2 separate regions of the Homo sapiens genome follow, and region 2 is linked to region 1. The links come from fine-mapping of genetic effects on gene expression. A gene starts in region 1. The other region holds a variant in brackets. All regions are shown on one strand. Distances are from middle to middle. Region 1 holds the start of SNN (stannin). Region 2 overlaps TXNDC11 (thioredoxin domain containing 11).

Evidence for each region. PIP is the estimated chance that this variant, and not a neighbour inherited with it, causes the effect. A credible set is the group of variants that fine-mapping cannot tell apart.
Region 2: its variant is the best candidate, but not a certain one, in a credible set for the expression of SNN in whole blood (INTERVAL, PIP 0.59).

The regions. Positions count from the first base shown.
Region 1 is chr16:11,667,026-11,669,927 of GRCh38, reverse strand. It overlaps SNN (stannin), which reads right to left and starts at 1,473. Exons shown (of 2, transcript NM_003498.6): 1 at 1,388-1,473. RefSeq lists an enhancer at 174-273 and a silencer at 1,381-1,800.
Region 2 is chr16:11,689,446-11,692,347 of GRCh38, reverse strand. TXNDC11 (thioredoxin domain containing 11) reads left to right here. Exons shown (of 12, transcript NM_015914.7): 8 at 266-1,058. Among named protein-coding and RNA genes, the nearest start is that of SNN, 22 kb to the right of the region's middle. The variant C/A (reference allele first, on the strand shown) is at 1,738.

The DNA of each region.
Region 1 (2,902 bases):
TGTTATCTCATCCTCCACCCCCACCCATGACACCCCCATCCTCAGAAGAGGAAACTCGCTCCAGAATCCCCTAGGTTCCCCAGTGGCAAAAGAGGAAGCGGGAGCCCGCAGAGCTCTGAACCGGGACTGCCCCAAGGTCAGTCGGGGTCTTCCTCGGGCCAGGCCAGAGGCTCATGCCCCCACCCTGTGAATCACCCGCTGGTCATTTTCACAGGCTGCCCCAGGGTTGGCCTGTTTGGCCAAACAACTTTGCTTGTAGATGCCGGAGAAAGTTGGTGGCAATTATATGTGCCAGACACTGAGATAAACAGCTCACGCAGATGTCTCCTTTCTGCCTCAAGACAACAGGGCAGTTGAGCTATTACTGTTCCCTCTTGGCAGATACAGAAATTGGTGGCTCAGAGAAGTTAAGTCCATTGCCCAAGGTCACACAGCTCAAAAGTAGACGCGCAGGGATTCAAACCCAGGCAACCTGCATCCAAAATCCCGCATTTCGACCCTGACTCTAAAATGCCACATTCTCCCTACCTCCTCTCCCGCGTGCCTGAGGGGCCGCGGACAGGTGAACCCCAGTGTGGCCCTCGCTGGGGCGGGCTGGGCGACCTGGGCTGGGTGCTGGGGACTTAGGGGTGACAGCGCCCCGGCGGCTCCCGAGTGCTGAGCGCGGGCGGCGTGGCAGGCGCGGTGCCAGGCGCGCTCCGCGCACCCTCCCGTTCCACCCTGCCCGGCGGCGCCGGCGTCTCCCCCACTCCACGGAGGAGCAAAGCGAGGCTCCAGGGAGGAGGGGGCTCGGCCCAGGGGGCGACAGCTGGAGAGGGGACGGCAGCTGGGGAGGTAGCTCGAATCGGCCCGACGGAGGCGGGGTGTGGGACGGGGACCAGGGGAGCTAGGCATGCCCACGCCGCGCAGCCGCTGCCCACGGAACCGGGCGCCGAACGCTGCGGCCCGGCCTCAGTTTCCCTACCCGCGAGACGGGCGCCGGACGTCACCTGGACCCCTATCCCCGGAGCCCTCCCCGGAGCTCCCAGAATTTTGAAGAACCCCGAAATGCCGGGGGAAGGCGGGAGCGTAGCTGAGGACGGGCGGGGGCTGCACGGGCGGGGGCGAGCGCCCCGCGATCCCCACAAAGCGGCCTCCGCCCCCCGCCGCCTCCTTTGTCCGGATCTCGCCGCAGCGCCGCTGACAAAGAACCCCAGCCCGCGGGCGCGGCCCCTGGAACGGACCCTCCCCCGAGCCGCGCCCGCCGGGCCGCCCCTCCCCCGCCCGCAGACCCCGGCCCGGCCCCGCCGCCGCGCGCGCCCCTCCTCGTCCTGGCCTCCCCCTTCCCGCCCCCGGGCCCCGGCGCCCCCGCCCGGCCCGAGCGCGCGGCCTGCCCCGCCCGGCTCACCATGGCGCGGCAGCGGCCCGGCCCGATCGCCCCGCAGCAGCCCCGCGGGCCCGGCTCCGCCCGCCCGGTCCGGCCGCCGCGCACTCGGGACGCAGGAGCCCCGCGCTGCGGCGGGCGGGGCCCGGCTCCTCCCCGGCTGGGGACGGGGCCTCCCAGAAAGGCCAATGGGAGCCCGCGCTGGGACGGCGGGGCGGGGCGGGCCGGGGCGGAGTCACGTGTGCTCGGGGCCGGCAGGCGGTGGGGCGGGGGCTGCGCGCGGCGGGCGGGCTCGGCCCTGGCGAGCGCGGATTGGGCGCCCGTGGGTACGGGGCCCCACTACAGGCGCCCTTCCTCTGCCAGCCTCATCCTGACCCCGGCAGGCTGCCTTGGTCCCGCCTGCTTACAGCGGAGGAAACTGAGGCACGCTGCACGGAAGAGTGCTGCATACTCCTCGAGAGCTGAGAGCGGCGGGGAATCCGGGGCAGGGGCAGGGGAGAGGCGCGACCGCTGAGGTGAATGACCTTGCTTCGGGAGGAAGCTGGGCATCAGTCGTTCGCGAATTCATTTATGTATCATTCATCCGCCCAGTCAGTCGATGGCGGAACACTGACCACGTGCCTGCCACGCCAGTCGTCGTGGGAGCAGCCACGAGCCAGACAAGGTCCCGGCCCTGACGAAGCTCTCATTCCTCTGCGGGATGAGGCTGTGAGGCATTTGCACCCCTCTGCCACCTATAATCATAGTTATTTTTAGCATAATTACCCGGTGGTTTGGCCCCCACCAAATGCCTGCCCTGTATAAACAGCCCAACACATTTTATTAAGATGACTCCGGAAGAAAGAATCTTCCCATTTTACAGATGAGGAACCTGAGGCTCCAAAGAGCTGAAGTCCCACAGCCTGCTCCTGATGGAGAGAGGGTTTTGAGGCCAGGCCTGTCTACCTGGGAAGACAGAGGCTCCAGTTATTGGAGTAATCTCCACTCATCCACCCCAAGAAGGCCATCGGCGAGAGGACACCCCAGCCCTGGGGCCCACAGAAGGGGTGAGGGTGGGTCCCTCAAGGCTTCTGTGGCCCAGGGGACTTGAGAAGACAGGAGGGGGCAGGGCGAGCTGGGACCTCCTCCTGGGAACGGGGGCCTTATTTGCTGGAAACTTCTTTCCCATTCTCAAGCAGAAGCCTCTGGAAGAGCATGGCGGGTTGGGCTCACGAGGCTGAGGTGGCCAGGCCCTCACTCCCTCCACTCAGCCTCGCTGGGCTTTCTTCCCTGCGCCCAGTGCACCAAGCCTTTCCCACCGCCAGGCCTTTGCCTATGTGGCTCCCTGCAGCTGGAACTCTTCTACTTCATCTTCCCGATCTCAGCTTAAGTGCCCCTTCCTCAGGAGGGCCCTCCCTGATCGCCCAGCCAAGAGTAGCTCCCTTGGGGTTTTTTGTTTTGTTTTTGAGACGGGGTCTTGGTCTGTCACTCAGGCTGGAGTACAGTGGTGCAATCACAGCTCACTACAGCCTCCATCCAACTCCTTCCTGGGCTCAAGCC
Region 2 (2,902 bases), 22 kb before region 1:
AACAGGCTGGCAGCATCCACAGCATGGACACGCTGGACAAAGGGATGGCTCGCAGTTTTTGTAATGGCAAAAATTTCATCACACTACTCAGAGCGACATGTAGTTTAAAACTTACGACTTGTTTATTTCTGGAATTTTCCATTTAGTATTTTTGAACCGGAGTTGACCATGGATAACTGAAATTACAGAAAGTGAAACGTGGCTAACGGGGTGCTAGTCCCTCAGTCATCCCCAAGCCCTTCACCAACTCTGCCCTGTATTTCAGATCACCGAAGTGGCCTTGGAGTACAACAACTGTCATGGGGACCAGGTGGTGGAGCGTCTCCTTCAGCACCTGCGGCGGGTGGATGCTCCAGTGCTGGAGTCCCTGGCCCTGGAAGTGCCGGCACAGCTGCCAGACCCGCCAACGATCACAGCGTCCCCCTGCTGCAACACTGTGGTGCTGCCCCAGTGGCACTCCTTCTCCAGGACCCACAACGTCTGTGAACTCTGTGTCAACCAGACCTCCGGGGGCATGAAGCCGAGCTCGGTCAGCGTGCCACAGTGCAGCTTTTTTGAAATGGCAGCAGCTCTGGATTCTTTCTACCTCAAGGAGCAGACCTTTTATCATGTGGCATCAGACAGCATAGAATGCAGCAATTTTTTAACTTCCTATAGCCCCTTCAGCTACTACACTGCATGTTGCAGGACCATAAGCAGGGGTGTGTCAGGCTTCATCGACTCTGAACAAGGTGTCTTTGAAGCCCCTACTGTTGCATTTTCTTCCCTTGAGAAGAAATGTGAGGTTGATGCCCCAAGCTCCGTTCCTCACATTGAGGAGAACAGGTATCTCTTTCCAGAAGTGGACATGACTAGCACAAACTTCACAGGCCTGAGCTGCAGAACCAACAAGACTCTCAACATCTACCTTTTGGATTCAAATTTGTTTTGGTTATATGCAGAGAGACTGGGTGCTCCGAGCTCCACTCAGGTGAAAGAATTTGCGGCAATTGTTGACGTGAAAGAAGAATCTCATTACATCTTGGATCCAAAGCAAGCACTGATGAAGCTCACCCTAGGTACTGCAGGCAGTTTATTTCCCCAAGCATTGTACATTTTGCTTGACTTCATATGGGTAAATTTTATTGATGGCTCTCATTACATTTAGTTGTGGGGTGATGTCACCTTCGTAGCTCATTTTAAGTCTTTAGACCACCATCAGTCATAATTTTCAAAGAAGCTAATTTTGTCTATTAAATGGAACAGAAACTTCCTCACTCTGAATTTTGGATAAGTTTGTCATTTAGCCCATGGTGGGGGTAAGAGTCCCACTTTCTAAATTGGCGATTTCTGTCACATGTCTAAGGTAGAACCAGCTGCAGGCAGTGGGGACTTGGGGACTAGAACAGGCAGGGAGGTGGAGAGCTATTCTGGTGGGATGTCCTAGGGGCTGATGAAAGTGAGCCTTGACAGCAGCTTTGTTCTAAAGGAGCTTAAAGAGAAAGCAGTGGCCGGGCGCAGTGGCTCACGCCTGTAATCCCAGCACTTTGGGAGGCCGAGGCGGGTGGATCACGAGGTCAGGAGATCGAGACTATCCTGGCTAATGTGGTGAAACCCCGTCTCTACTAAAAATACAAAAAAAAAAAAAATTAGCCGGGCGCGTTGGCGGGCGCCTGTAGTCCCAGCTACTCGGGAGGCTGAGGCAGGAGAATGTCGTGAACCTGGGAGGCAGAGCTTGCAGTGAGCAGAGATCGCGCC[C/A]CTGCACTCCAGCCTGGGCGACAGAGCAAGACTCCGTCTCCAAAAAAAGAGAGCAGTGAAGAAGGAAGTAGAGCCGCCTTGCCTCCCTTTTTGTCTCATAGGCTTAAATGTCTAAGGATCAAGGCCACCAGACCTAATTTGTTCTGCTGCTGTTTCATAATGTACTGAGTAATATTGCTGGGACCTGGGGTACCTACACTGTAACAAGTGTAAAGTGCAAATAAATAAGTGTCAGTCGCAAACCAGCAAAACCCACTTTTTGAGGAGTAAGGCTCCATGATGAGAAAGCACCCAGAGCTTGCCCCTGGGACTTGGCAGCAACATTGGGCTGACCCACCCTGGCCTGTTCCCAGGAATTTGCTGATGCCCTTGACTACACACAATGAAGTGAGAATTCAAAAGCCACGTTAGTTCAGCCTCATTGGAAACGGGAGGGAGGGTCAGTGTATGCCGAATGGAGAAAGGAGGAATTTGGTAGGGAAGGAAACCTTTCATTTCAAGTTTTAAAGTATGAACTCAACAGTAGACTCAGAGCTTCTACATATGAGTCTTTTTAGCCATCCTCTTTCAAATCTAGGTGAAGCTTGTTTCTTACATTAGACACATTTGTGAAAAGGCTTTATGTAAATATTGATTTTTCTATATCAAGTTACATATTATAAATCCAAGAGTTCCTCACTGTGTAAAAGAACCCTGTGACCAGTCACTTTTTGAAGGGCATAAATCTGTCGATATTATAGATTACTCCCAATTCATGTTATCTAAAGTCATTTTGATGTGTTGAGCTTTCTTAAAATGAAACAAGCATTTTTTTTTTAAATGGGAAAGAGACTCCAGAGAAATGGGGTCAGTGTTCCTACAAGCATGTATTTTTGAGGTAGTCTGTATTAGATTTTCCTGAATTCCATTCAGTAATGCTCAAGTGTTTAATGACCTCATAATGTGTTCACTTTGAATTTAAGGGTAATTGAAAGAAGCCTTCTTTAGATTTCTTTCCATCTTCTGTATCTTCTCTGAAATGTTTAGCCTAGCTGTTCTTTGTCCTGCAGTTAGTGACAGAATTCTTAGGGAGCTTGTAAAAAACACCTACTGTGTGTCATTGTTGGTTTAGAGACTTAACTCATAAATCAGCTGTCTCTAGGCTAGTTTCAGAATTTAGGCTTTA